6 linked regions of the Homo sapiens genome follow. The protein of the gene in region 1 purifies or fractionates together with the protein of each later gene. This does not show direct contact. Each region holds a gene or a part of one and is shown in the gene's direction. Other genes may lie near its edges.

Region 1 (5,651 bases):
GTGTTCACAGGGGAAAAGGGGAAAGATGGATCAGAAGACTTGGGTGGCTTCTCTCCAGTTCATAAGTATTTCTAAAACTGGGGGCCAAGGATCCTTCCTGGATAGGCTTCAAGGGTATTGAGTGGAACTTGGGCTCATAAAGCTCATCTAATTTTTAAAGGGCCCATGGCTTCCCAGTGGTTGAGAAATGATGGCCTAGTGATGTCATTGGGAGGCTGTTATTTTCACCTTCTGACTCTTCTAGCTTGGGCTCACTTAGGTGTGTAACATTTGATTGTAGTCCTTTCAAGGCCTGACACATTAGTGGTCACCTGATAAATGTGGCAGGGGCAAGTTAGTTATTGATGGATTTTTTTTTTACATGATTTGTGCAAAGGCCCTTGGAGAGAATGAAGTTAGCAGTATTATCTCATCTTGGAGAAAGCAGCATAATATATCCAGAATCATACTACCAGTAGGATGTGGATATTGTATTCTAATAGCCAGAGTGAATCCAAATTATCTGATTTAGAGATTCCAAAGGATTTCATAAGTCATATGCAATATACCACAAGCATCCTGGTAACTTATAACCTTATTACTAAGATTATTATCTTGAAAAAATTTCTAGGCCGGGCACCGAGGCTCATGCCAGCATTTTGGGAGGGACAGGAGGATTGCTTGAGCTGAGGAGTTCAAGGCCAGCCTTGCAACGTAGCAAGATCCCATCTCTGTTTAAACAGATAAGAGTTTTTTTAATGTCTTAAAGGGCCTCCTGGCAGGGCACAGTGGCTCACTCCTGTCACCCCAGCACTTTGGGAGGCCAAGGTGGGTGAATCATGAGATCAGGAGTTCGAGACTGGCCTGGCCGCCAACATGGTGAAAGCCCATCTCTACTAAAAATACAAAAATTAGCTGGGTGTGGTGGCAGATGCCTGTAATCCCAGCGGTTCCAGAGGCTGAGGCAGGAGAATCGTTTGAACCCAGGAGGTGGAGGTTGCAGTGAGCCAAGATTGTGCCACTGCACTCCAGTGTGGGTGACAGGGCAAGACTCCATCTCAAAAAAAAAAAAAAAAAAAAAAAAGGGCCTCCTGTTGGTCAGGTCACATCACGAGTCAAAAGAAAGTCCCAGACTTCTGCTTCTTCCTGGAAGTATTCCCTTCCTCTCACCTATCATGCACAGCCTGGACAGTATTGATTTCAGTGGTCCCTAACATCCAGCACTCCCAGGTCCCCTCTGTCTCCCTCATACATGACATAGTTCATTGCCTTTTTTGAGCCCGTCTTCTATTCCTCCCATCTCTGAAGCCTAGGGCCCACTTTCAGTCATCAGGAGTCCCCCTTTACCTTCCTGCTGTGGGTCTCCCCTGTGCACATTGCCTCCCTTCTAAGGGTGACTGCTTTCCTTCCACTTTCTTTTCTTTCTTTCTTTGTGCAGTGGTACGATTTTGGCTCACTGCTACCTCTGCCTTCTGGGCTCAAGTGATCTTCCTGCCTCAGCCTCCCGAGTATCTGGGACTACAGGTACACGCCACCATGCCTGGCTAGTTTTTGTTTTTGTGTTTGTTGTTTTATTTTTTTGAGACAGAGTCTTGCTCTGTCGCCCAGGCTGGAGTGCAGTGGCATGATCTCAGCTCACTGCAACCTCCACCTCCTGGGTTCAAGTGATTCTCATGCCTCAGCCTCCCAAGTAGCTTGAACTACAGGTGTGCACCACCACGCCCAGCAAATTTTTGTATTTTTAGTAGAGATGGGCTTTCACTGTGTTGGCCAGGCTGGTCTTGAACTCCTGGCCTCAAGCGATCTGCCCACCTTGACCTCCTAAAGTGTTGGGATCATAGGCGTGAGCCACCGTGCCCATTCCTTTTTTCCTGAACATTTTCCAAGTGAGGTTGTTGGAAATCACGGATGGGGAACTATGCATGCGGAGGGCTGACTGTAATTGATTTCTTTCTGCCTCCTCACTAATCTGCACACTGCAGGCAGGGACCTGGTCTCATCATGCCTGCACCTCCAAGCACTGCCCTCTTACACTGTAGTCTCCCCATTGGTCAGCATGGTTCCATGAAGGAACTCCATTATCACAGCAAGGACTGACCTCACACTGGTGGCTCCAAGTCACTGCCCAAACATTCTGAAGGGAGTAGAACTTCTTGATTCCTCAGATAAATAGAGGACAGATGCTGGACTGTAGCTAAGTATTTCCTTTCATCTACGGGATAAAATACTGATAATTTGAGAGTGATGGACAAGGTTCAGAGTGGTTTCCTCATTTTGTTTTTGTTTTTAATGGAATGCCAACTTCATTTATGCTTGCCGTATGCAGATGGACTCCATCCCACTGGAAACATAACAGGCTTACCAGGTAGCTTCAACCACTGGTTTTATGTGACTCAGGGAGAATTGAAAAGCTGTTTCAGGGGAGATAAAAAGAAGGTAATTACATTTCACCGCAAAAAGTTTTCTTTTCAAGGCAGTAAACGGTCACAACCACCCAGAAACATCACCAAAGAGCCCAAAGTGTTCTTTCATAAAACCCAGTTGCCTGGGATTCAAGGGGCTGCCTCGAGATCCACGGGTGAGTCATTGAATTCCTCATTCAGTGGAGTGAGAATCGTAGCCTGGAGTCCTCTTATCTGCCATGTGAATGTGTACTGTGTGCTTGCTGGTAGAAAGGTCCATAAAATAGAGTATAATTAGATAAACATTTGCTTGGAAATTAGATCTTATGCTCTTCACTCTCTGTTAACTGCTTTCTCTTTAGGGATTGCCACTTTCTTCTCTTTTTCATTTCACTTTAATAAGCGCACACAAAAACCTTGATCCCATCCAGATTACACAGGTATGCCTGTCTGACTTGAATTTGGTGCACATTTGGCAGTAGAGCATGCAAGTCTAGACACAGAAGGTTTGTGAGTGTACAGAATTCTTTTTTTTCTTTTTTTTTTTTTTGAGACAGAGTCTTGCTCTGTCGCCCAGGCTGGAGTGCAGTGGCGCGATCTCGGCTCACTGCAAGCTCCACCTCCTGGGTTCACACCATTCTCCTGCCTCAGCCTCCCAAGTAGCTGGGACTACAGGCACCCGCCACCACGCCAAGCTAATTTTTTGTATTTTTAGTAGAGACAGGGTTTCACTGTGTTAGCCAGGATGGTCTTGATCTCCTGACCTCATGATCCGCCCGCCTCGGCCTCTCAAAGTGCTGGGATTACAGGCATGAGCCACCATGCCCAGCCGAGAATTCTTTATAAGCATTTTCTATGGTTCCCTTCTAATTTGAGTACTAGAGGATGTTTGTTTATCTTATAACAGCAAAACCAACCCCGACAATCTTTGAAGCTCAGCAACCCTTTGTGGAGATATATGATGCTTGTAAATAATCTCCATTCCATGCAAGGGAAATGCTGTCTGTGTGATACATTTGCATGTAATTTGTGTCCGAGGAAAGGACACTATTGTTGGTTCCCTGGCCTCTCTGCCTGGCTCTCTGATCCTTTTTTTTTTTTTTTTTTTTTTTTTTTTTTTTTTTTTTTTGAGACGGAGTCTCACTCTGTCACCCAGCTGGAGTGCAGTGGCGCAATCTCGGCTCACCACAACCTCCACCGCCGGGTTCAAGCAATTCTCCTGCCTCAGCCTCCTGAGTAGCTGGGACTACAGGCGCGTGCCACCATGCCCAGCTAATTTTTGTATTTTCAGTAGAGACGGGGTTTCACCATGTTGGTCAGGCTGGTCTCGAACTCCTGACCTCGTGATCTGCCTTCCTCGCTGGGATTACAGGCATGAGCCACTGTGCCCAACCCTTGCTGACCTTCTAATGAGGTCGTAGCCCCTTCAACTCTAAGTCTCTCCAGGTCCTTAATTTGGGCAGAGATTTCCCAACTTGTATGACTGCAAAAGGAGACCAGAAACCAAAAGTATCCTGTTCCTAAAGGTCATTCTTCATGACAGGAAGCACCAGGTGCAAAAAGAACAGCAGGCTCACCAGGCTTCTGCAAATTAACCCACACATTGCTGCCAGGCATTGGGAGGAATGTATTAACACATCCCATCTTAGATATTTGGAAGCTGTGTGTTCGGCGTCCTTCTCTAATGCTAAGTTATTTCCTTGTTTTCCCAAGTTCATCTTAAACCATCTTAAAGTCTCTTCTTTTTGATCCCCTTTGATGGCCTTTTAGCTGCATCCCCTACGAACCCCATGAAATTCCTGAGGAATAAAGGTAAGCCAAGGGATCTGGGAGGGCGGGTGGACCCGCAACATTCCTGAAGCTGTCGTGATGTGTGGCTCCAGAGGGTGCTGGCTGGTCACCAAGGAGCCTGCACACGTGGTGCCTTCATGTGTGTTAGACAAGGTGCCCCCTCTGGAGGGGGATGCGCAGTGACACCGCTTGGGGCAGGTGAGAAGGTGGCTCAACTCCACGGGCTGATGTTGTAGTGAGTAGAGCACAGGCTGTGTCTGAGATCTCTTTGTGGAACACACAAAATGCATGGGCACACACAGCGGCCCTGTCAGCAGCCTTTCTAGCAACTCTCCCCACTGTGGCTTGTCCTGGAACCTCCTCAACACCTCTCGCTTCAGAGTCCTCCAAAGCAGAAGGCACCTTGTGTCCTGCTGCTGCTCCCGCCCCAGAGCATCCTTCCTTCTCCTCTGCACATTTGCTAAGTGCCTGCAACAGGGCGGCTTCTGAGTCAGCTCCCCCACCACCTACCCATCTCCACTGCTTTCACATGTAGCCAGCATTTTATTTAATCACATATGCTGAGTGAGACATGCAGACACAGAAATGACTGTCATGAAGGAAGAAGCCTGATACTCACGGGTCCCTAGAAGCAGGAGTCCACACAAGGAAGCACCAGGGTCTATCAGAAGGCAAAGGGAGCCAGGAAAGTGTGAGCAAAAGCCTTTATTCTGGGCCGGGTGCGGTGGCTCATCCCTGTAATCCCAGCACTTAGGAAGGCCGAGGTGGATGAATCACTTGAGGTCACGAGTTCGAGACCAGCTTGGCTAACATGGTGAAACCCCATCTCTACTAAAAATACAAAAATTAGCCAGGAGTGGTGGTGGGCACCTGTAATCCCAGCTATTTGGGAGGCTGAGGCGGGAGAATCGCATGAACCTGGGAGGTGGAGGTTGCAGTGAGCTGAGATTGGGTCGCTGCACTCTAGCCTGGGCAACAGAGCGAGGCTGTCTTTTTTAAAAAAAACAACTTTATTCTGGTTTTTACAGGAAGGCAGGTAGGGAAGGCGGGCTTGGGATCAGCTTGAGTGATTTGGTGGCTGTGGGGCATGGGGTATGTCCCTGGTTGTCTGGGACCTGGCCCTGGGGTGGTTGGGGGCAGGGGATGGTGGCCTGGAGCATGAGGGCTCCATAGAGATTGTTGGGGTGTAGGCTTTGGGTGTGTCGGCTTGCACATGAAAGGTGCACTTGCAGGCCAGGGTTTACTATCTTCAGGAATTGGCTGGACCTGGGAGGGCAGTCTCTTCAAGGGTCAGTTAAGGCCCCAAGATGTCAAAGTATCAGGAAATACAGAAAATAAAAAACGTGATGAATACATCCATCCACGCCAAACACATTATCAATCTTCCTAAAGCTCAGCTATGACTGTTTCACCTGCCCATTGACACCACCATCACCAAAGCACAGAGCTTGAGTCCTGGCTGGGGTATCAAAGGCCTGC
Region 2 (5,170 bases), on another chromosome or scaffold:
TAGCGCAACATTGAAATTAAAATTTAGTCATTCACAATCCATCTCTAGAGATTGCCAAGTGTAGTCTGCTTTTCCTGCCTTTGCCTGGTTGGTGGCTAGCCACTCATTTCTTAACCCCTTGTTATCTGGATTTCACCTTCACAAGGAACTATAACCTAATCAACACATTTAACTACCTTTTTCTAAGTCCTCTCCTTGAGTTTTCTGTAAGATTTAACATCGACTTCACATTTTCAGATGCCTCTCCTTGGGTTTCATTCATCTATACTCGCTGTATTCTAACACAGGGTCCAAGGCAGTAAGATACAACAGATCCTTCCCTCATGGAGCTTAAAGTCTAGTGGGGAAATACTTATTGAAAAATAAAGTCTCTAGTTAAATATAATTGTGATTTTAATTAAGGTGCAGAATATTATAAGAACTTCAAATGGAGACCTGATCTGGTGCTTGTGGTGGTGGGAGAATCTGGGAAAGATACCTTAAAATTGCTTTGTTGGAACCCAGGCAGATTGTGAAGGATGAGCAAGAGTTAACTATTAACTAGATGAAGAGGGGCCTTTTGTGACATTATACTGACTTTGTTCCTCTCCGCCACTTTTCTGCCTTCTGTTTCTTCTTTCCTCTTTAATATGCGTTCTCCAAGTTTCACTTTTCAGATCACTTTTCTCTATGTCTCTAGTCCCTTAGAATGATTGTTCAGACCTTTCTGTTGGAATAATTCTCAATTCTTTGTTTATGTGTCTTCTGAATCACGTTTTTTTGTTTGTTTGTTTTGTTTTTTCTTTTTTATTCAGTTGCTTTCTACATATCTGTACCTGATTGTTCTGAGCTGCTTTTCCTTAGCAAACTTGCCTCTTTGGTGTTCTTTATTTTTGTTGATGTCATACCAAACCCAAACCTTTTCCCATTTCATCATATCTTGTCTGTAGCCAACATCTGTTGATTCTGCTTTATGATATTGTAACTCTTCTGCTCTCTATTCTTGCTAACTGTGGGGCAATTCTGAATTCATATTGGTGTGAAGGTAGTAGTCAAATCATAAAACGAGTTGGGCAGCTTTCCTTCTTTTTCTCTTTTTCAGGATCATTTTAGACTGGGATTATCTGTTCCTTGAAAGTTTGGAAGACCTCCCCTATGTGACCATTTAGGCCTAGATCTTTTTTCTGGAGAGGACTTTGAGTAACACTTCAATTTCTTTAATAGCTGTTGGTTTGTGTCGATTTTCTGATTCTCATATGAATTTTAATGTTTCACATTTTTTTCAGGAATTTATTTTCAAATCTAGTGTTATTTGGCTTTCACGTAGTTCTCCCCCCACCACCCCGCGACTCCACCCCCACCCCCTAACTCTAAATCAAGTTCTCATCCCACCTGGACTAATGTTATGATTTTCTTGCCTTCACTTTTCTCCTTTATCTAATCTTATGTATTTCTGCCTAAATTAATCTGTAAGCCCAGTTCTTACCACTTCGCCACTCAGAAGTTTCCTAGGTCTTCCATTAAATGAAATATTTTCTGTGGTATTTGCCTCAGATTTACCTGTTTTTTTTTTTTTTTTTTTTTAATACCTTATTGTTTTTTCTTTCTTTCTTTCTTTCTTTCTTTTTTTTTTTTTTTTTTTTTTTGATACAGAGTCTCGCACTGTCGCCTGGGCTGGAGTGCAATGGCGTGAGCTCAGCTCATTGCAACCTCTGCCTCCTGGGTTCAAGGGATTCTCCTGCCTCAGCCTCCCAGGTAGCTGGGACCACGCCTGGCTAATTTTTGTATTTTTAGTAGAGGTGGGGTTTTGCCATGTTGGCCAGGCTGGTCTTAAACTCCTGACCTCAGTTGATCCGCTCGCCTCAGCCTCCCTGTGCTGGGGTTACACAGGTGAGGCACTGTGGCTGGCCTTTATAGCAGTTTTTATACAAATATTAGTTTCACTACTAGTTTGCAGGGTGGGTCTGTAACGGACTTTTCTTGCATATTAAAAGGAATAAATGGGGAAAGGCTCCTGTCTAGCCTAACAGTAGCTGTTGAACTGTCCTGATCTGACTATTGGATCTTAGGAGCAGCGAACCATGGAGAGAAAGGAAAATGGGTTTCCTATCACACTAAATTTTGAAGTAGGAACCATTTCTTTTCCTTTTCTACTTTCCCACCTTTTACTAGTTTTTAGGCTTTAGGATGTCTTTTTAACATCACAAGGTCCATATTGACCAAGTTGGACCAACTTTTTAACACAAGATTAAATGTTGACTTGCATTGAGTTATGTCCATTGTAAGATACACAGTAGTGTTACAGACCACTTAAAATATGCTTCTAGTTGTAAGAAGCCATTGATTGTAAGGTGCACCCCAATTCCGGAGATGCTAAAATATGAAAAATGGATGCATCTTAGAATTGATGAATAGTGTTTCTCTCCCTAATCAAAGCTCTTGGATGTGCCTGGAAATCCCCAGTAGTGTTTTTTGAAAAGAACACTAGTTAGGGGCATAGGGAGATCAGATGATCAGTAGACTCCATCTCAGGGTGGCCCCTGTGGTCCCTAAGCCAGTTCGTATGGGCAGTTTAATATATAACTAATGAGTAGACATTGAATAGATGAGTAAATTATCTTTGAGTATCTTTTATTTACTCTGATGTTGTAGACTTTGTTACTCTTTTATAGTTTTATATTTCTGATGAGCCTTCCTTTCTTATGGCACAGATTTGTTATACTGTTAAAGTCTGGAACAGTGGAGCTTGGCTCTTGATCCAGCTGTATATAATTGGCTGTTGACTTATGAAGGAGGACAGGAGTATGCTAGAGATAGGGATAAAATATTATAATCACATTTGCAGTTAGGGAGATTAGTTACATGTTGGAAAATCATTTTGAAGAAAGGAAGACTGAAGATGTTCAAACTTGTAGGAAGGTCTTTCTGGCCTAGCCCGGATTAAACCCATTTATGCCTAGTGTTCCACTATTGGAACGCTAAGCACGTGGGAGTTATTTATATCCTGCTCAAGGTCATCACCAAGGTCTGATTGCAAAAATTCAAAAAATTGCAGCCTCAGGCATAAATGGGTTAAGATGGTGGCAGATAATTAGGGCCTGGAATGGATAGGAGGCGATAACTAGCGTGGATGAGAGAAGGAATGGGATTGGCAAGAACAACTCCTGGATTTCTAGCTTGGAAAGCAGGGTAGATGTGGGTGACAGATATGAAAAATGAGGTGGGAGAGCTGGTTTGTAGAAGAAAATAGTATTGGATCACATGGAGTTTGAGATATCTGAAACAGCCAAGTAGGGATTTCCACTTGGCAGTTGTCTATATGGGTCTGGGGTTTGACAGAGGTTTGTGCTGGAGGTAGGCATTTGGGAGTCATTGCTGTATAGATTTTATATTCCAACAGTGGGAATTGGGTGGCTCTCTCAAGTGACTCTTGCTTACAAGTGACAGCCCTAACTCAAGTTAGCTTAAAGGAGGGAAAAGCTTCTCCCCACTAACCCCCATGATATTGAAAGGTCTAGAAATAGACATGGCTGGACCTAAGTGCTCAAATGATATAATTAATTGAGGTTGTCTTTTCTGTTCTTCACTTTTGTGGTCTCATTTCAGGCAGGTGCATATATCTGGCAGAGGAAGACATAGGTTATAGGTTATAGAATTACAGGTTATAGGTTATAGACCTCGTATCGAGAACTCCTTGTATGGTCTAGCAAAGAGCCTAAAACAGCATTGAGAATTTTTTTTCTTTCTTTTTGAGACGGAGTCTTGCTATGTTTCCCAGGCTGGAGTGCAGTGGTGCGATCTGGGCTCACTGCAACCTCCGCCTCCTGGGTTCAAGTGATTATCCTGGCTCAGCTTCCCGAGTAGCTGGGTTTAACAGGCGCCCGCCAATACGCCTGGCTCCTTTTTGTATTTTTAGTAGAGACAGGGTTTTGCCTCGTGGGCCAGGCTGGTCTCAACTCCTGACCTCAGGTGATCCTTCCGCCTTGGCCTCCCAAAGTTCTGGGATTACAGGTGTGAGCCACTGCGCCTGGCCAGTCTTGAGAAATTTCAACTTAAGGCCTGGGTAGAGAAGATAGACATTAAATAATTATCTAGTTGTAGTTATGTTAAGATCTACAAAAAGGAAGTCCAGGGAATGTTACAAGACTGATAAGGGAAGCTGGGCTGTTCAGGATGCGGGTACTTTGGAAGGCTTTCCTGAGAAAGGTAGCCCGCAGAGTGAGACCTTAGGCAAGAAAGGACAAGGAGACTGTTTTTGGAAGTATTCAGTAGTATTTATTTATTTATTTGAGACGGAGTCTCACTCTGTCGCCCAGGCTGGAGTGCAGTGGCGTGATCTTGGCTCACTGCAACCTCTACCTCCCGGGTTAAGCGATTCTCATGCCTCAGCCTCCCAAGTAGTTGGGGTCACAAGCGTGAGCCACCACGCCTGGCTAATTTTTGTATTTTTAGTAGAGACGGGGTTTCGCTGTGTTGGTCAGGCTGATCTCGAACTCCTGACCTCGTGATCCGCCCACCTCGGCCTCCCAAAGTGCTGGGATTACAGGCATGAGCCACTGCGCCCGGCCAGAAGTATTCGGTAAAGTGAGCAGTTTTTGCAGCTTTTTAAAAATTTTAAAGGCAATACATCTATTGTGGGTAATTTGGGAAGTATAAAAAGCCATAAAGAAGCAGCGGAATGATTAAGTTTCAGCTTCTAATTTTTTATAAATAATGTCTGATACTGGTTTTACTACTGAGTACCTATTCAATCACGGATGCCACACTAACCCAATCCGAATCTTCGTTTCTTTATCTTAAAAAATAGAAGGAACATGGTGAACTTTAAGATAATTTTTCTGCTTAAAAAAAGAAAAAGAAAGAAAATATCTTGACTTGCAGCACAGTTAGCTGCCGAAATTGAAGGTCATATAATGCTTTTGGTCCTAATGACATCACTGGACTTCTGACTTTTGGCTGAAGAATCACGCCAGCCTTGGCAGTCCTTGCAAGTACCAAAGGGAGTATGGCTTATGCCTGCGGTGCCCTTCCCGTATCCTGCTTTCTTACCTCCTTTTTTGAGCATTAATTTTTTTTTCTTTAGCCTTTGGGTAAAGTATCAAAATGTTGAGAAGATAGACTCTCAATTTTGAAGGTGAGAAATCTGTAGGAGACTTGGATAGTTGTTTTTTTTTTTTTTTTTTTGAGACGG
Region 3 (5,170 bases), on another chromosome or scaffold:
GTTTATTGAGTATACTATGTGCCAGGCATTTTGTTGGTTACAGAGATTAGATTAATAAACACTATACCAGCCCTCACAGAACTTTGAGTGGATAGGGATGGGGGACAGATGGTAATCAAGTAATAACACAAATAGATACCTGCAGACTATGAACGAGAAGTATAGAGAGCTATGCAAGTGTCTGACATGGTGCGTCGGACCAGGCTAGAGGGTAAGGGAATGAGGGCAGCTTCTCTGAAGAAGGCCCGATCTCTCTAGATTAAGAAGTAGGGTTAGCATCTTGGCATAATGGGAAGTGGTTTGGAATGGCAGGAGAAAAAGGCTTGCAAAAGCTGTCTTAGTAAAGGTGATCAGGAGTCAAAAAAGGATAGACACAAGTGTTGGCAAACAGGAAGAGCCCAGCTCACCTGTGGTCAGATAGCCCTAAGTGTTTGCAGTGAAGCTCATCAGCAGGGGCTATGCTTCCTAACCAGACAGATCATCTCTGTCTTGGAGCAAAGGGATCCTCCCTCCTGTGGCTGTGGGCAGAGGAAGTCTGAGAATGATTGGTGTCCAGCTGACTGTGTTTTCAGAAAGTTTGAGCCAGATTTTATTTGTTTGCATGTGAGAGATTCAGTGAGTTAACAGGATGTTGTCAGGCTTTGATGATGAAATTGTTTTACCTTGACTTTTTGACCTACGCATAGTTGAAGCAAATCCTAGAAAATTTAACCTTGATGCAACTGAATTGAGTATAAGAAAAGCCTTCATTACAAGTACTCGGCAAGTTGTCAGGGTAAGGAATATGATCTTATTGTGTTATCTGTATAAGAAATAGCCAGACTTCTTAGAGCTCTTTCCCTTAATTGTAAACTAATAGGTCACCTCTGAAACCACTTTTTAAATATGAATTAAATGTGAGCTTCCCCATATATAATTTCTCTGATTGGCTGCGCATGGTGGCTCATGCCTGTAATCTCAGCACTTTGGGAGGTGGAGGTGGGTGGATCACTTGAGCCCAGGGGTTTGAAACCAGTCCGGGCAACATGATGAAACCCTGTCTCTACAAAAAAAAAATATAAAAATTAGCTGGGCATGGTGGTGCACACCTGTTGTCTCAACTACATGGAAGACCAAGATGGGAGGCTGAGGTGGGAGGATCAGGTTGAGGCTGAGAGCTATGATCACGTCACTGTACCTTAAAAAAAAAAAAAAATTTCCGTGATTGAAGAAAAAGAAATCTGTTTTTAATCTTTCTTTTTTTGACACAAGGTCTCACTGTGTTGACCAGGCTGAAATGTAGTGGCATGATCTTGGCTGACTACAACCTCTGCCTCCCAAATAGCTGGGACTACAGGCGTGCACCACCACACCAGGCTAATTTTTTGTAGAGACAGGGTTCACCATGTTGCTCAGGCTGGTCTTGAACTCCTGAACTCAAGTAGTTTGCCTGCCTCAGCCTCTCAAAGTACTGGGATTACTGGCGTGAGCCACCATGCCCAGCCTGTCAGGCTTATTTCCGAGAGCAAAAATGAGACAGTAATCTGCTGGCTTTGGGCAGGGTACATTCAAATGGTGTCATCCTGAATGATTAGACCCTTGTCCATACCTCTAGTTTCTTCAAGCTAGTTATCTTTCTCACTTTTTATTTCTTAGTGTACTCTATTTCTTGACGAACAAAACAATTGCTATTGTAGAAACCATTTGGTTTTTTGATTGATTGGTAATCACTTCGCATTGTTGAAGAGTGACTCTTAGTGGGTTTGGATAGCGGCCTCTTCCGCCATCTGAATTGCTTCTGGAACTCTTGCAACCCAAGATACTGACATTTCCATATGTAACTACTTGACAGCCGTTCCAGAGTTATCCAGAGCAAACAAGCATCTATCAGAGTGTAAAAAATTGATCCAAGTGAACAAATCTTTAGTTCTAAGTTATTTAGAATAATACCCATTATTAAAGAATCTGAGAAAAAATATTAAGTACAATCTTGTGTCATTAAAATGTTTCATATTTTGAAACTATATGGCTAAGCCATTTGATTAGCATAACTAGATGTAAGAGAACCAGCTGTCTTTAACATATGTACTAGAAAGCAGCTTCCTTGAATAAAAAGACTTGGGATCATACCAGTGCTAACATACGGCTTTTTAAGAGTCATCTTAGGCAGGAACCTTAGTTTGTGTTTGCCAAAGTCTTTATATCATGTGATTTCCTTTTGAAATTATTTCAAATGGTAGATTATCACTGAACTTTATATATTCTTGTTACTTGTTTTATTCATTAGTTGCCTTTCTATATACATATACGTAAATTGTTTATAGATAAACCCACATTTTAATGAGGGAGAAACCTTTCTGGACCTCAGATGCCCCATCCACAGTGAGTGTTTGGATTGGACATTCTTAATTTCTAGCCAGTTCAAAATACTGTTCTGATGAGGAAGCCTTGTTGTTAGGTGACATATTTTTTGTAAGATAAGTAAATCCCCAATTATTTTGTATAAGCTTTTTTTTTTTTTTTTTTGTAGTAGTAGGTTTTTTGAAGGATACTCCTATAGACGTTAATATTTAAGTGGGGCCTTGCAGTGAAGCATATGTCCTTAACCTTAATCATTATATTTATTTCTGCAAGGTAGACTTAGGAAGTTTGCAAATTGAAATTTAGAGGTTCGTATATTAAAAATTAAGTTCATTGGTATAATGGAAAGAAGAATCCAAAGTTCATTTTCTAATATCTGAAAAGCTTTTTAAAGTACATTCTTAGAAAGAGGTTGATATGATTTAGCTGTTTCCCCACCCAAAATCTCATCTTGAATTGTAATCCCCATAATCCCCATGTGTCAAAGGAGAGACCAGGTGGAGGTAATTGAATCATGGGGGCAGTTTCCCACATGCTGTTCTCATGATAGTGAGTGAGTCTCATGATAGCTGATGGTTTTATAAGGGGCTCTTCCCACTTTGCTCTGTCACTCTTCCCTGCTGCCTTGTGAAGAAGTTGCCTTGCTTCTCCTTCTGCCATGATTGTAAGTTTCCTGAGGCTTCCCCAGCCATGCTGAACTGTGAGTCAATTAAACCTCTTTCTCTTATAAATTACCCAGTCTCGGGCAGTTCTTTATAGCAATGTGAGAACAGAGTAATGAGAGGTATTCCAAATCAAGTCAGTACTTCAAAATCTTACTGTCCTTTTAGAGTTGAGATCTAAACCATACTCAACTATGTGATCCACCTGAATATTTTAGGGTTTTAAATCATTCTTGTTTAAATTTATGACCCCTTTGGGGGAAGCTGTTAGTATTTACCAGTGGTAGGCTAACAGTACCTAACTGAGCTTTTGCTGATCTGATTGTAATAAATTCTAGTTGAAAGTCCTATAGAAGAGGAGGAAATAGCAATGGTGCTAACTCGATTAAAAATAAAATATACCTTGTATAATTCCACATTACCACATTTAGCTAAACAGTGTTTGTATGTAGAGATTTCTGGGTTCTGGGTGGAAGAGCTCGATAGAGAGGGAGCAGAGGGTTAGCAGATTTGGAAAATGAGATGAAATGAAGTTCAAATTAGGAATTTGTACAAATTTATGTTAGTTCTTCTGTTACTATTACTAGTGGGCTTTCATTTAATATTGCTCCAAAATTTTGATTGACTTTATCTTTCAAACAGTGTATTCTACTTATGCTTTCTCTTTTGTAGGCAGGGGAGTCAGTGATACTCTATGCATTTTGTGGTTTTTTTTTTCTTTATTTGCTTCAACCTGAAGAAGTAAATCGCCTGTTTCTTCTTGATTAATGTCCATTGGTTATGCCTTTAGTAAGCTTTCCTTGTTTAGAGTTTTGTGTATGTTTTTCCAAGCATCTTTTAAGTCTGTACAAATCCAGTTTTGCTGGCAGTTTTTAGTGAAGAACCAAAATACTCACATTTTTGTGTAAATAGCTTTCATATTTTTGAGGTAATCATTTTTACTCTTGTGGAGTCACCTATACATCAAAGATTCCACATGTGAAATTTTTGTGTTTTAGAAATATATCCTAGAAGTGACTTTGGTTTTACTTTAGGATCAAGAGGTTTTGCAGTATATGGCAGAATAATGGTGAATATAAGGGGTAAGGGAACCTGAGTTCTAGGCTAAGCTGTGACCTTAATAAATCTTAACCATGGTAAGTCATTCAACCTCCCTGGATCTCAGTTTTATCTATGAAATAATCCTCACTAACATTCTCTGACTTTAAAAGTTAGAACTATTACCCTCTCCATGAAAAAACCGAACCTGCTCCAATGTAAGAATTGTTTACAGTCAATTGTAAGTCAAGATGGAAATGGCTTTGGTTAATCAAAAAGGGTGAAGTATCCAGTGTGAGCACAGATGACCTTGAAATGTAAGAATTATGAGTGGGAAGCACTGGGGTTTATGATGTCTCATTCATTCAGCTTGGAAGACAGTGTGAAATGGGAACAGAAGCATAAATAACCAGGACATTTGTTGTTCCTTTGGCAGATGAACCATATTTTATTGGGACTTGTTGCTTGACTGCTGGTTCTAAACGTCATGTGTTAGAAAGAAGATGAGTAATTATGTTTTTGGCATGATAGATTGTTATAAAATGTTTAAAACTATTTAGTAACATAGTTTAAGATCCCGAATTCCAATATGAAGGTGTTGTGTGGTATCTGCTAACTTTTGACCTACATGGATAAAGTGCCATCTTAGAAGTGAAAGCTGGCGGGGTGTGGTGGCTCATGCCTATAATCCCAGCACTTTGGGAGGCTGAGGCGGGCAGATCACTTGAGGGCAGGAGTTTGAGACCACCCTGGCCAACATGGTGAAACTCTGTCTCTACTAAAAATACAAAAATTAGCTGGGTGTGGTGGCAGCTGCCTATAGTCCCAGCTACTTGGGAGACAGAGGTGGGAGAATTGTTTGAACCGGAGACAGAGGTTGCAGTGAACTGAGATTGTGCCACTGCACTCCAGCCTGTGAGACAGAGTGAGACTCCTCAAAAGAAAAAAGAAAAAAAAAAGAAGTGAAAGCCATAGATCCTTAGATCCTTACCCGCGGTGGTGGTGGTCACATACAGGATGCCTACCCACAGGGCTATTGGAGGAATCTGCCTCATCAGGGCTAACACCCATGCAGGCACACACATAACCCCACATGGTTTTTATTAAGCATAAAACTTTAAAAACTGCAA
Region 4 (4,477 bases), on another chromosome or scaffold:
CTATTTTAATGATCTCATGTCTATGCTCAAAGTGATTTATTTATATATTTACATGTAGAGTGGGTCCGTTGATACTGAAATTTGTATCTAGTACCCTAAAATAAAAAAGCAGAATGCCATATTGTCTGGTGGATATAAAAATCGAAGTTTCTTTCCTTCTGAAAATCATTACCATATGCTCAAGAAAAACGGTTCCATTTAGGACAAAATTTCGTTTTTATCATTGTAAGCAAAAAGTTCTCTTTTGATGTGGTGGGCGTGTTTGTTTCCAGTTGTGTGGTTAATGCTGATGTTGTTGGAACTGATACATTCCCCTTCTGGGATGCTGGGATGGGGACTCTTTCTCTTGCCAACCCTGGTGATGAATTAGAGGGTTTTGTGTGTGTGTGTGTGTGTGTGTGTGTGTGTGTCTTTAAAAATGTCTAGTTGCCAACATTCCATGGGCTCTTTTCTGATAACACTGAGGCTGTTTGTGCTGTGGTCTGCACTTTTTGCCCCCTCTCAGCAAAACCACATGTCATAGAATAGTTGTTGGCTTCTGGATGTGTGAGCAGAACTGCCCCACTGTGCCAGCCCAGTGGAGGCAGAGAGACCCACAAGTTCCCAATTTAGAAAGCTTTTCATAGCTTCAGAACAGGGGTCGGCAACTGCTTTCTGTAAAGGGCCAGGGAGTAAATATTTTCAGCTTTGCCGGCCCTGTGGTCTCTGTTGCAACTTCGCCACTGTAGCCTCAAAGTAGCCACAGACAATATGTAAATAGATGTGTTCTAGTCTGTCTTCTAGTAAAATTTTATGGATCCTGAAATTGGAATTTTATATAATTGTATATAAATTTTATTCATTTTAATCCTATAAGATATTCTTCTTCTTTTGATTTTTTTTTTCAACCGCTTACCAATGTTAAAGACCATCTTTAGCCCTCAGGCCATACAAAGTCGTCTGTGGGCACCCAAGTCGGAGGAAGTGTCACCCTGGGGTGATCCAGAGGGCTTTTTGCAGCACCAGCACTGGATGCCTTGGGGAGCAAAGGACACTTTCTGAATCTCGAACCTTCAAAACTTTGAAACTTAACCGATATTTTCCTGAAGTTTCCTTTAACAGTGCATTATGGATTTAACATACATGAGTATGTCTAAGCCTTTTTTGAACCTGTTTACATTTTCAACTCGGAGAGCTTCTGAGAGTAATCAGTTACATCTGTTAAATTACCCACTGAATGAAGAAGTATTCCCCTTCAATTATCCCCGAAACTACAATAGTAAAATGTAATTCAGAAAATAAATATTCATAGTCTCAACTACTTAAAGGGGGTCTGGGGACCCACAACATGTTACCGGTTTTCATTTTGCTGGGGCTCGCATTTGAAGCAAGGGCTCTAGTGAGGAGGTGGTGTAGACTCAGCGGGTTATTTAGGTCCGTGTGAAGCCGAGTTGCCTGCCCAGCACCTATAGCTCAACTAGGTTTTATTGTTCTCTACCTGTCAATAGTTGATTTATGATGGATTCCAAGAGAAAAGCTAAGGACAGCCTGGGGTACATCAGACGTGGTCTCAGGGAGGTCTTCGTGGAAGTCAGGTGGGCTGGGTCTCTGTTCACCTTCTAGGGGTCTCCTGTCCTGTCCCACGTCCAATACCCACATCTCAAGAGTTTGTGTTTGAAATAAAACTCTTCTCTTCCCTTCTTTCAGGAATACTTGGACCTCAGTCAGCCTCTCGAACCGTATTCACCTTGTTATCCTGACCCAAGATGAAATAAAACGTCTCTCTTCCCTTCTTTCAGGAATACTTGGACCTCAGCCAACCTCTCGAACAGTATTCACCTAGTTACCCTGACACAAGAAGTTCTTGTTCTTCAGGAGATGATTCTGTTTTTTCTCCAGACCCCATGCCTTACGAACCATGCCTTCCTCAGTATCCACACATAAACGGCAGTGTTAAAACATGAATGACTGTGTCTGCCTGTCCCCAAACAGGACAGCACTGGGAACCTAGCTACACTGAGCAGGGAGACCATGCCTCCCAGAGCTTGTTGTCTCCACTTGTATATATGGATCAGAGGAGTAAATAATTGGAAAAGTAATCAGCATATGTGTAAAGATTTATACAGTTGAAAACTTGTAATCTTCCCCAGGAGGAGAAGAAGGTTTCTGGAGCAGTGGACTGCCACAAGCCACCATGTAACCCCTCTCACCTGCCGTGCGTACTGGCTGTGGACCAGTAGGACTCAAGGTGGACGTGCGTTCTGCCTTCCTTGTTAATTTTGTAATAATTGGAGAAGATTTATGTCAGCACACACTTACAGAGCACAAATGCAGTATATAGGTGCTGGATGTATGTAAATATATTCAAATTATGTATAAATATATATTATATATTTACAAGGAGTTATTTTTTGTATTGATTTTAAATGGATGTCCCAATGCACCTAGAAAATTGGTCTCTCTTTTTTTAATAGCTATTTGCTAAATGCTGTTCTTACACATAATTTCTTAATTTTCACCGAGCAGAGGTGGAAAAATACTTTTGCTTTCAGGGAAAATGGTATAACGTTAATTTATTAATAAATTGGTAATATACAAAACAATTAATCATTTATAGTTTTTTTTGTAATTTAAGTGGCATTTCTATGCAGGCAGCACAGCAGACTAGTTAATCTATTGCTTGGACTTAACTAGTTATCAGATCCTTTGAAAAGAGAATATTTACAATATATGACTAATTTGGGGAAAATGAAGTTTTGATTTATTTGTGTTTAAATGCTGCTGTCAGACGATTGTTCTTAGACCTCCTAAATGCCCCATATTAAAAGAACTCATTCATAGGAAGGTGTTTCATTTTGGTGTGCAACCCTGTCATTACGTCAACGCAACGTCTAACTGGACTTCCCAAGATAAATGGTACCAGCGTCCTCTTAAAAGATGCCTTAATCCATTCCTTGAGGACAGACCTTAGTTGAAATGATAGCAGAATGTGCTTCTCTCTGGCAGCTGGCCTTCTGCTTCTGAGTTGCACATTAATCAGATTAGCCTGTATTCTCTTCAGTGAATTTTGATAATGGCTTCCAGACTCTTTGGCGTTGGAGACGCCTGTTAGGATCTTCAAGTCCCATCATAGAAAATTGAAACACAGAGTTGTTCTGCTGATAGTTTTGGGGATACGTCCATCTTTTTAAGGGATTGCTTTCATCTAATTCTGGCAGGACCTCACCAAAAGATCCAGCCTCATACCTACATCAGACAAAATATCGCCGTTGTTCCTTCTGTACTAAAGTATTGTGTTTTGCTTTGGAAACACCCACTCACTTTGCAATAGCCGTGCAAGATGAATGCAGATTACACTGATCTTATGTGTTACAAAATTGGAGAAAGTATTTAATAAAACCTGTTAATTTTTATACTGACAATAAAAATGTTTCTACAGATATTAATGTTAACAAGACAAAATAAATGTCACGCAACTTATTTTTTTAATACTCGTGTCTTACCAAATGGTTTCCTGTGCTTGGAGGTGCTGACTGAGTGCTGTTGTGAATGCAGGAAGGGCAGGGCTGCCAAGGGTCTTATGTGCTACACACGGGGGTGACTTGCCAGAGGGGTTGACTGAGACCAGCAGTACCTGTGACAGGTTGAGGTTGATCCAGTGGAAAATCTGAATCAGTTGGTTGGAGCCCTGGCTCGGTTGCTTACTGGCACCTCAATGGAATCATCGTTCCTTTCTGAGCCCTACCAGTTCCCCAGAGGAGCAAACAAAGAGCCACATGGTAGAGAGCTTTGCAAACTGGAAGGTGACCTAAGGATGACAGGTATTGAGTAGGGAAGACGTTCAGAACATCTGAATCCTGGGGACTTAAAAACCTTTTAGGCTGTTTTCTTCATGATGTATGGAGAGAAGGATTTGCTTCAAATTTTCCAAAAGAAAACTTGGACAAATGTTCGAATAATTATTTATTTTCATACCACCAACGATCTGAAGAGGGAAATGGAGTTTTGCCTGTCAGTTAACAAATGTGAATCTGTGACTCTTAAGGGTCTGTTGTATCTACTTGCCAGCCTCATCAGCAGCAGGAAAGGGAATTGAACATAGGCCAACTTCTCCTGCACTTCAGCCAGGCTCTTAGAACCTTACAGGGCCATTGGTAAAGAGTGCTGTCTTTGGGGTCTTCTTTCTGTTTGAGGCCATTCATGGTGGAGCAAGGTGTCACCAGCCATCAGGGGAGTGGCCTAGGGTCCTGGTTCTGTATTTCCCAAACCTCTGTCCTTCTGTTTCTTACAGGATAACAGGGCTCTTGGGAATGTGATTTTAAAAATAAGGTGCATGAAAGCCACCTAAGAAAATTGTCACCTGTTAGACACAAGTGTACAGGGTGATGTTCTGTACCCCTGGGGACATTTCTACCGTGAGATGTCCTTGGCAAGGGTGAGGATGGACTTGCTGGGGTCTACGCTGGTTCCTCCGTGCAGCTCTCTGGTGCATATGCTG
Region 5 (5,170 bases), on another chromosome or scaffold:
TGAGAACCACTAATCTAGAATAAAGTACAAAATTATGTCCTCCAATTGCTGTATATCTTGCAGTGAAAAAGAGCTTGGAAACTTACATGTCAAGCCCCTAGCACAGTGCTTGGCTGATGGCAGTCATTCAATAAATGTTATTTCCATTGTTTCTACCCATCACCCCCTCTTAAAAAAGAGACTGTATTCCAAACTAGATTCTCCTACTAACTTGTAGCATGTCGTAAGAAGCAAATCACTGTGCACTGAATCAATTAGATTATATTACTTCCAAAATCCCCTCTCTGCCTAAGTCTTTGTTTCCTTTAGTGTCCTTTTTGTGCGGTTTTAGGAGGAAATGGAAATAAACACGTTTAGTGTGTCATGTATTGCCAAAGTCTGAAGGTTTTTTATTTTACTCTGTATACCCCATCCTTAAATTGTAAAGATTTAGAAAAGTATTTGTCACCATTCAACCATCCTTTCAAGGGTTAATTAATGAAAATTAAATGACATTTGCACCGTATTGTAATTTAGACTTTGAGATATTTAATGGCAAAATACAGTGATTCATTGTTTTTTATGTTCTGTGATCAAGCAGCCTTCATATAAATATAAAGGAGAGTAAATGTCATTTCCAAAACTAATTATCTTGGTGCTTTATAAGACATAAAGCTAGGCATTTCATCCCATATTTTATAGAAATAAAAGTTGAATTTTTTCTTTGAGAGTTGGTGGCTTAAAGGGGGAGTCAAATTACCAGGAAGGTGATCATAAATACATAGACTTTTGGACTAGGATGTTATTTTGCCTTTTATTCAAGATATTTTGCTCTTCTTTTAAATGTGTCTAACAATCTGTCCCTGTAGTTTTATATTTGCATTTCTACTAACTAGACACTTAAGATGTCAGTTCCTCCCTTAGCTAGTTTACAGAGTTTGAGCTAGAAATTTGGTATGCTTACAAACTATTAAATACACTGTACTTTGTCTCTTCGTATTGGAGAAACTATTAAAAGAAAATTCTGTTGTCTAATGTTCTTGCCCATGAAGGAGGTTCCATAGCTTTAGAAGTCAATAACTCTATTTATGTGTATGCAGTAAGTGCAGCTTTCTTTCCAGTGTTAAAACAACCCACCTCAGGTGTCCCTGCATTATTTATATGTAACATATCTTCATACTTGAATTACTCAAATTTTGAGCTCCATGGTTATGATTATGATATGCCAGTTGATTTACATTATAACAACAGATGGTAATGGTGCAGGTTGAAATAAAAGATCATTAAGATAAATATTTTAGCCTTCATTGGCTCCCTGTTGCATAAAATTTGTCAGAATGAAATAGAATCATGGCATTTCAGAATTGGAAGAGTCCTTAGAGATTATCTCATCCAGTCCCTTATTTGACAGAGGAGAAAACAGAAACCCAGAGAGAATGCTGCTTGCCAAGGTCGTACAGCTAGTTAGTGGCAAAGCTAGGACCAAAATCTAGGTCTGCTATTTACCAATTCATTGCTTTTTCTGCTGTCTCTGTGTGAGATTTTTAGGTACTGTTCCATCTAATTACTCCCCAATGTCAGCACCAATTATTCTAATTAACATCTATTCATTCTGGAACATACGCACTTTCACCCCATTATGAATCTCAGTTGGTTAAACTTTGTATCTGGCTTTCTTTTAGGTTCTCTACTCACATCTTTTAATCTTGAAGACTAGAAAATATAACTGGATCTACCACTTGTTTGGAAAATTTCTCTACCAAGCAATAAATTACCCGCTGTGCTTTTGTTGTAGTGTAGAAGTTTTTGAGTTCTCCAAATCTAAACAAGATTTTGTCCCATTTTCCCATGAAGCTACATTGTTGCTTATTCACTTTAGTGGCAAGTATTATTGTGCCAGCTGCTTTTGTTTTGGAAGATGTGGACTTCGACCAAATGGTTTCACTGGAAGCAAATCGTAGTTCTTACAATGCATCCTTTCCCTCAAGCTTTGAACTCTCAGCAAGTTCCCACTCGGATGATGATGTCATCATAGCCAAAGAGGGAACTAGCGTTTCAATTGAGTGTCTTCTCACAGCCAGTCACTATGAAGATGTCCATTGGCACAATTCAAAAGGACAGCAACTGGATGGCAGAAGCAGAGGTAATTGGTCAGGGTATAATTAATCAAGGTTACTCATTTCCTGTTCTGTCTTCTTATTTTTTAACACGTTAAACAAAAAGTCTCAAAGATAAGGTGCCAAGGTGAATAGTTTAAAACATTTGAAAGGTCTGGAGTGTTGTACCTATCAGAAAATGCAAAGTAATTATAATTGTTTAACCAGAAGAAGAAAAAAAAGAATCATTCTAAATTTAAAAGATGTTCACATGATGACAATGAGCTATTTTCTCTCCTGATCAGTTGGTTTTCTTCTTCATTGAAGGTAGAGTAAATCAGGGCTGCTGCATACAGCTGTACAGGTGGTATACAACACAACTCTGGGAGCACCCTTCACCTAGACTACTATGTCAGTAGTACAGTGTGGTGGCCCTGTGTGAATACATCCAGAAGGTTTTTGGCTAGACTTAAGAAAATTTGTTATAAATAAAAAAGTTTTGCTCTGAAATTAGTTACTATAAACTTTAGAGGAAATCCAGGACATTTTTGAAAATGAGTATCAATCTGTGCATAAAACTTTGACGTCAGGTCTCAGAGAATTAGAAGGGCACTATGGAACTTGTAAGCCCTTCCAGCTCTTTTTTTTTTTTTTTTTTTTTTGTATTCTATACCTTAATTTACTGGAAATGAGAAATTTTTTTTTGCATTTTTTGTTTATGTCTTAAAAATCACATAAACATAGTGTGTTCAAGGTCTACTTTTTGACAGATTTTTATTTAATTTTCCTATTCATGGATCTGTGAATATATCTTAATCCAGACTACTCCTAACCAGTGTTCTGTTATAAAGATCTTTTTGATGAGTACTTGAGTTATAATGGACCTCAAAAAGAAATCACCATGAAAAGCCAAAGGGATGAAGCTTAAATTCTAAGATCCTCACAAGCTACACTTTCAGAAATTTTTTTGTTAGGAAGATAGTGTAGCCTTCTGAAATAGAAAAGGATATTGGTTATTCATATTAGGCTGGAAAACACAAAAGGAGACAGGTGATACTTCCTTCAGACATATGCACTATTTTAATCTATAGACTGAGTGACTAGTCACCAAGGGATTGAAGAGTTTGAATTGTTAGGGTATTTTTAATCAGCATGTTTAAAATACATAACTATTGAATTAGAGTGATACCTGGAATGTGTACTTTGAACATGATTTGGGGTTCCATATTTGAACCCACTGAACCAGACTCCTATCTTCTCTGGGCTCTACGATATCCTGACCAAACACCTCTGAGATCTGAATTATTCATTCAGTGTCATCACTGTAGACTGACTGCATAAACAAAGCCTTAGGTTAAAACAAGACCAGCCAAGTGGAATGGCAGTTTTATTTTTCTATTTTGCCTTTACTTTGAAAACCACTAACATCTATCATTGATGCTTTCAGCAGCAGCTCTGGAAAATTGTATTAAATTTTATGAATCTCAAGTGAGAGGAGTTTAAAGAGCATGTCAGTCTAGTATAAGGTTCATAAATCTTGAGCTATTATCAGCAAGTGAGCTAGAGAGTTTAGATTGTGGTTGTAGTGCAATGGTTGATGAATGGAGTCTTTGTAGTTCATCATACCTTGGATTCAAGTGGTGTCGTTTTCATAGCTCTAAGTTCATAGAACAGAAGCTTATGGAAAATGGCTATATTCATAACTACATGTTTTCCTCTTTTTGTATTAGTGAAGTGATGGCTTTTAAATATATTAATACCTATAGGATTGAGATAAGTTTGGATGATGATGAAAATGGACAAAATCCAGAGTGCTTACTAATTTATGTGCCACTAAAATAATCCAGAACCATAGAATCTTGGGGATGAAAGAGATTTTGAAGATTGGGCACTCAAGTAATGCTTAACAAGCAGTCCGCTAACCTCCTCTGGGACACCTCCTCTAGTCATTGGAATGCATCCCCACACTGCAGGTTAGCCCATCCTTCCCATCTCTGAATGGCTTTCATAGTTAAAGCACAGAGTGCTTTGGGAATGTATCACAAAAGTAGGAATTATGCAGTCAGAGCCAAGTTATTGAAGGATGTGAATCAAGATGCGTAGTCAATATGCTTTGCTTTTCTTACACTTGTATACTTCTATATACGTGTTCCCTGAATGAAAATACCTTCACGTGTGGAAGAGAGGCAGTATGTTTTAGGTTGAAAATGGAAGCATAGGCATCTTAAGGGCAACTTTATTCTTTTTGCCAAGCTTTTCATTTACCATGACTTGTGAGATGTATTTTTTGGCCTGTGCTTCAGTTACTCTTGCCAGAAAATCAACAAAAGTTTCTTAACAACAACAACAAAAAATTGATATGTGCAAGGCATACCAGATTAGGCAGTTACTTCAACAAATGCATTAAATTGCTAGGATTTTTTAAAATAATTTCTTCTTGTTATATAATTTCACTATGGAAAGTGAGCAAACACAGTTAGAAGAAAATAAAAATTACTCATAAAAATTTAAAATACTGTTATTTTAAACCATTGTTTTATATTTCTGAGACATACCCTCATAGTATATGAAAATGTATTGGTTGCAATGTGATGTAGACGGACACATATGTATAAACTATAAGCTTTTTTTATGATTAGTCATTTAGCATTTTATAGACATACCTGTTTCACAGAAAGGCTTTTGAAGTCTAGCAGTGAAAAGGAAGCTATGTTAATTATTAGTGTCATGAAGGAAGATCTTGATTTCCTTTTAAGATCCAAGCTAATTAAATTCTGACTCTGGACCTCACAGTCTGCCCTTTTTTTACATGATTTAAACAAATGGTAGAATCTAACAAATCAGCTAAGTTAAAGTACTTTGATAAAGAGGTGGAATATGGATAAGGCAGCGGGCATATTTAGTAATCTTTTTGCTATAATTTTTTTTTCATTTCTGTTCAATTATCAGGTGGAAAGTGGTTGGTTTCTGATAACTTCCTAAACATCACCAATGTAGCTTTTGATGACCGTGGGCTCTATACCTGTTTCGTCACCTCTCCAATTCGTGCCTCCTACTCTGTCACCCTACGTGTTATCTTCACCTCGGGAGACATG
Region 6 (5,170 bases), on another chromosome or scaffold:
GATCTGTCTCTCTGAGTATCCCCTACAACCCAGATTCTGTGACAGTTAAATTGGACTCGGGCTTCCACTGACCCAGTTGATGGAAGAGACTGAGCATCTTTCCAACTCTAACCCAAACGTGACAATGCCGCGTATTCTTTCAGAAAGTGTCAGGAAAGAGCCCGAAGATCCCTGAGCTCCAGGGACATGGCAGGGAGGCTGCACAGAAGGGTTCCCAGGGGTGGAAAAGGGGAATCTTAAAAATAAATTTTGGAACCAAGTAATCAATTTTATAGCACACTCTAGTTCTAGCGCACATGGTTCCTCCACTTGTTAGTGAATGCCTGACTTGTTGCCCCTGAAGTGTAAAAAGATGTATATTTAAGGATTCCATTGTTCAGCAAGTTATTATGCATGCAGATGGCAGGCACTAAGTGCTTACTCTTTTTGAAGGTGATTGCCTCTCCCCGCGATCCCCCTACATTGCAGTGTTTTGTTTTAAACAGCTTTCTTGATGGAGCCTAATCTTATCACCAGCATTATAGAAATAAGCCAGAGTGAGAAGCCTGTACAGTGAGGTCTTGGGATTATACCATAGTCATAATGGTGTTTTAAATTGTTTTTATTTTTCAATTGAAAAAAGTACACTATTCTAAAGTAGTGAATTTTAGTGGAGCAAACTCTTCACCTGGAAGTGTTTTTTTCCTTACCAAAGTGAAAATTGGTGGTTCTAAGAAGGCTGGAATTTATTTGCACTGTCATCTTTTACTATGGTGGGGGATGATCAAATTTAACATTTCCAAGTTTCCAGGAGACAGGCAGCCTATCTTATAAATATTGTCATAGAAGACCTCTTAACCTCTTTGTTCTTTGGATTTCTGTATTTCTTAGAATTGTCATGCTTCCTTTCTGAGACCTAAATTATGCAGGGGTAACGTGATTACTTTGACACCAAGCTCAGGAAATATAAAACGGGTTAAGTATAAACCAAGCTAGGTTTAAATGAAGTTCATTACTGGCTACAGTATATTAAGGGAACATATTCGAAAAGTCTGTATTTGCCTTTGTTCTTGCTGCTGACTCTTCTGCTTCTTTTGGTGACCTTCCCACAGCACAAGAGTGGTTAGGTGTGAGGAGGCTAAGAATACCTTGCCAAGAGCTTCAAATAATGTTAAAACCAGTATTTTAGGTGAACCATGGTCCCAAGAACTCTATTTAAGTAATTCCTAGTTCGGTGTCCCAGGAGCATTTGGCTTTACTGCACCTATTTTGGCCACATGTCTTTGTTTAAAAGGAAAAATTATCTTAGGTTATAATACAGCTATTTTGGGAGTACCTTAAGTTTAACATTAGATTACTAGGATTCGAAAAAATGTACCCAGATGGTAGATGCTGATGAGAATTTGACACAAGAATTCATTTGAAATTGAAGCTTTTGTAGTATTAGTCAGAAAAATTTATTGACATCTGGTTTTGAACAGCATAGTGAGTGGAGATTGAGATGATCAGTTAAAATTTAATGGATTGTGGCCGGGCACAATGGCTCACGCCTGTAATTCCAGCACTTTGGGAGGCTAAGGCAGGCATATCACCTGAGGTCGGGAGTTTGAGACGAGCCTGGCCCACGTCTACTAAAAATACAAAAATTAGCCAGGTCTGGTGGCATACGCCTGTAGTCCCAGCTACTTGGAGTCTGAGGCAACAGAATTGCTTGAACCTGGGAGGTGGAGGTTTCAGTGAGCCGAGATCCCACCATTGCTCTCCAGCCTGGGCAACAAAAGCGAAACTACATCTCAAAAAAAAAAAAAAAAAAAGAAAGAAAGAAAATTTAATGGATTATGGAGCTCTACTTCACATTAGTACACCTCGGTCTCTCTGTTTTTCTGTCTCAATTCAAGATAGAGTTCTTTGTAGCGGTATGGTTTAGAGGTGGTATGTATTTTACAAGTATGTCAGTTGGCTCTGTATATCCTGATGATACCGAAGCCAGGACCAGACCCCTACGTCAGTTATATCACTAAATATTCTGTTATTAATTTTCAGATTGGCTCCTAGTCCCAGCCAACTCATGTTTTAAATTAATATAGTTCATTGTCACACTGGACTGGAAAAACCAAATGAAATGTCTTTATTCTATGAAGATGACTTGTGTAGACTATACAGACTAGCAACAGCAGACACTTTCAGTGCGAGTTATTTTAAAAAATTGAAGATTTGACTGGCAGAAAAGTTGCTGAGATAGGGAAAAGGGATATCTATTGACAGATATATGTAGAATTAGGGAGAATTTTATGTTTTCATAAGTGTCTCAATTATTTAAGATTTAATTTGGTGTGCATGTGGAATATAATGGTAACATGGTTTGTCTGTGATTTGTCTTTTGTCTTAACAGATTATTTTTCTAACTTTAAAAAAGTATACATCACTTGAGGCCAGGAGTTTTAAACCAGTCTGGGCAACACAGGAAGACCCCATCTCTACAAAACATAAATTTTAAAAAAAGTTAGCCAGGGTCACAGTGTGCCATAATTGTGCCACTGCACTCCTGCCTGGACAACAAGAGTGAGATCCTGTCTCTCCAAAAAAAAAAAAGTATGCAAGTGATAAATATTCACTACAAAATATTTGAACATGCAGATACACAACAAAAAGGAAAAATTCCCCTGTACTCCTATTACCTAGAAATAACAGTGTTGAACTGTAAATGTCTCATTCTAGGCCTCCTTTCCATTATATGTCTGCCTTTTTAAAAAGGATTATATGATGCCTATTGTTTGGCAAGTTTAGCTTTTTTCATGTAATAATAGTACACTGTAAATATCTATTTGAGTAATGAAATTTAATTTTTTTTTTTTTAAAGACATGGTCTCTCTCATGCCCCAGGCTGGAGGGCAGTGGCACAATCTTAGCTCGCTGCAGCCACGACCTCCTGGGTTCAAGCCATCCTGCTGCCTCAGCCTCCTGAGTAGCTAGAACCACAGGTGCATGCCACCACTCCCGGGTAATTTTTGTATTTTTTGTAGAGACAGGGTTTGTTTTGCCATGTTGCCCAGGCTAGTCTTGAACTCCTAAACTCTCCTAATCTCAAGCGATCCCACCCACCTAGGCCTCCCAGAGTGCTAGGATTACAGGTGTGAGCCACCATGCCTGGCTGAAATTTAATGTATATTTTTTTTGACACAGAGTTTCACTCTGTTGCCCAGGCTGGAGTGCAGTGGCACCATCTCAGCTCACTGCAACCTCCGCCTCCCGGGTTAAAACGATTCTTGTGCCTCAGCCTCCTGAGCAGCTGGGACTATAGGAGTGTGCCACCATGCCTGGCTAATTTTTGTATTTTTAGTAGAGATTGGGTTTTGCCATGTTGGCCAGGATGGCAAAATTTAATTTTTAATGGCCGTTTAGTAGTCCTTTGTGTGATGTACTATAATTTATTTGTCTCCTATGATTGGAATTTAGGTTGTTTCTAATTTTTGCTGACACAACACTTATATGTACCCATTTTGCCTCTTTGAATATTTCCATAGAATAACTTCCTGGGAGTAGAATACTTTTCTTAAAGGATTTGTGCATTTCAAGGCTTTCAAAATACGTTGCCAAATAGCTTTCGAGAAAGGCTATTTATTTCAGTTTTTGGGTTCTTATCTTTCTAATTGGCTTTATGCTTACATTAAAATATGAAATTTTTATTTAGTTGCAGAATGAAGAAGAGTCTGGAGAACCTGAACAGGCTGCAGGTGATGCTCCTCCACCTTACAGCAGCATTTCTGCAGAGAGCGCAGGTAGGTAACAGGGCAAGGTGATCACGGAATCCTTAAAAACACTCTGTGCTTTGACATTACAGTTTAAAAAAAAAAAAGCTTCAGAAGCAGTTGGAAGAAAGGTTACAAAGCAAGTCTGGATTTTAAATAATTGAGAAGTGGATACATTTAAAAATCACCCCCAGTCTCTTACATTCATCTAAGAATGTCTTTTGGTTCAATTGTTATGTATGTACTCTTAAGGGAATGGCTGGGTTTTGTCTGCTAGAGTTAGTGGAACTCCTTTTATTTCAATTCAGCTAATCATCAAAAAATTGTGACTGTTAAAATTCTGCAGCATATTTTGACTACAAGGATGAGTCTGGGTTTCCAAAGCCCCCATCTTACAATGTAGCTACAACACTGCCCAGTTATGATGAAGCGGAGAGGACCAAGGCTGAAGCTACTATCCCTTTGGTTCCTGGGAGAGTGAGTATAATTTGCCATGTTACTTGATGGCTGCTCTGTGGGAATTAAGTTATTTTCATTATCCAATTTTGATTCGTTACTTATGATTGTATTGATTAGTGAAAGTAGAGCTAATTTTAAAAATCAGGTACATTTGCTTTTGGGATAATAAACTCATCTCTTCTTAAAAATGATGAGGTAAATTACTAGTCAGACCTGCTCATTTTTCCTTCATCTCTCCTATTACCACTACTTTTTCAAGTCTCCTGGGATGGCTGAAGTATCTTGAAGCAGAAGCACACTAATGTTTCCTTGATTCTGCACACTTAATATTTTGCTGTTGGGTGGATAGCTGCTAGGGAGGTCTAGGAAGAGAATAAATATATGCAAATTTGTAGAATTAAACTCATAAGAGGGATCTTCACATTGATTTAGATGAACTCCGTTCTTCCAGCAGTCCAGATCATGTCATTTGTGGGGACATAGTGAGTTCAGATTCCATCTAGCCTGATGTTGATTCATGGAGGTGGAGATTGGGATGCCATATAAACCAGTGGAGATTATTGGGCACTCTTGGTTCTTGATGTCAGATATGTGAGTGCTGCATTTGTCATTTTGTAAATATTCATCCAGATTGAGGCTGATGAAGGTAGGGCATTGTGGGAGAATGGAAGCAGGATAAGTCCCCAGAAATGCGGGGACCATCAGGCCTCTAGGCTCTATTCTAGCAAGTAACTGGAGTGAGTGATGAGCAAGTACAGAAGCCTAGTCTGGGCAGTGTGATGGCATAGGCCCAGATGTTCCCCTCTTGGCTTTAAGATAGTAGACAGTTTGCAGACCACACCTACTGTGAGGAGCGAAGCTCCTAAAATCATTGCTTGGTAGAAATAGTTTATGAGCCCAATCTAGGATGATCCTAAATGGCGATGATGTGCATTCAGTTCTTACAGGTACCAGGGAGAAACTAAAAACCCTAGTGTCTAAGG

Evidence for each region.
Region 2: the proteins of C19orf18 (region 1) and BMPR1A purify together in Homo sapiens (affinity purification with mass spectrometry; one large-scale study listed by BioGRID and IntAct). This does not show direct contact.
Region 3: the proteins of C19orf18 (region 1) and STX6 purify together in Homo sapiens (affinity purification with mass spectrometry; one large-scale study listed by BioGRID and IntAct). This does not show direct contact.
Region 4: the proteins of C19orf18 (region 1) and FGFR2 purify together in Homo sapiens (affinity purification with mass spectrometry; one large-scale study listed by BioGRID and IntAct). This does not show direct contact.
Region 5: the proteins of C19orf18 (region 1) and MFAP3 purify together in Homo sapiens (affinity purification with mass spectrometry; one large-scale study listed by BioGRID and IntAct). This does not show direct contact.
Region 6: the proteins of C19orf18 (region 1) and NDFIP1 purify together in Homo sapiens (affinity purification with mass spectrometry; one large-scale study listed by BioGRID and IntAct). This does not show direct contact.

The regions. Positions count from the first base shown.
Region 1 is NC_000019.10:57,971,005-57,976,655, reverse strand, and holds the start of C19orf18 (uncharacterized protein C19orf18 precursor), read left to right. Parts: upstream 1-2,121; 5' UTR 2,122-2,223; coding exon 2,224-2,344; intron 2,345-2,452; coding exon 2,453-2,557; intron 2,558-4,151; coding exon 4,152-4,193; intron 4,194-5,651.
Region 2 is NC_000010.11:86,758,647-86,763,816, forward strand, and holds part of BMPR1A (bone morphogenetic protein receptor type-1A isoform 3 precursor), read left to right. Parts: intron 1-5,170. UniProt on the Homo sapiens protein: On ligand binding, forms a receptor complex consisting of two type II and two type I transmembrane serine/threonine kinases.
Region 3 is NC_000001.11:180,998,211-181,003,380, reverse strand, and holds part of STX6 (syntaxin-6), read left to right. Parts: intron 1-680; coding exon 681-775; intron 776-5,170. UniProt on the Homo sapiens protein: SNARE promoting movement of transport vesicles to target membranes. Targets endosomes to the trans-Golgi network, and may therefore function in retrograde trafficking.
Region 4 is NC_000010.11:121,477,323-121,481,799, reverse strand, and holds the end of FGFR2 (fibroblast growth factor receptor 2 isoform 1 precursor), read left to right. Parts: intron 1-1,686; coding exon of another isoform or gene 1,687-1,749; exon of another isoform or gene 1,750-1,778; coding exon 1,779-1,943; 3' UTR 1,944-2,129; coding exon of another isoform or gene 2,130-2,219; 3' UTR 2,220-3,468; downstream 3,469-4,477. UniProt on the Homo sapiens protein: Tyrosine-protein kinase that acts as a cell-surface receptor for fibroblast growth factors and plays an essential role in the regulation of cell proliferation, differentiation, migration and apoptosis, and in the regulation of embryonic development.
Region 5 is NC_000005.10:154,047,896-154,053,065, forward strand, and holds part of MFAP3 (microfibril-associated glycoprotein 3 isoform 1 precursor), read left to right. Parts: intron 1-1,661; 5' UTR 1,662-1,827; coding exon 1,828-2,122; intron 2,123-5,024; coding exon 5,025-5,170. UniProt on the Homo sapiens protein: Component of the elastin-associated microfibrils.
Region 6 is NC_000005.10:142,128,138-142,133,307, forward strand, and holds part of NDFIP1 (NEDD4 family-interacting protein 1), read left to right. Parts: intron 1-3,670; coding exon 3,671-3,758; intron 3,759-4,074; coding exon 4,075-4,205; intron 4,206-5,170. UniProt on the Homo sapiens protein: Activates HECT domain-containing E3 ubiquitin-protein ligases, including NEDD4 and ITCH, and consequently modulates the stability of their targets. As a result, controls many cellular processes.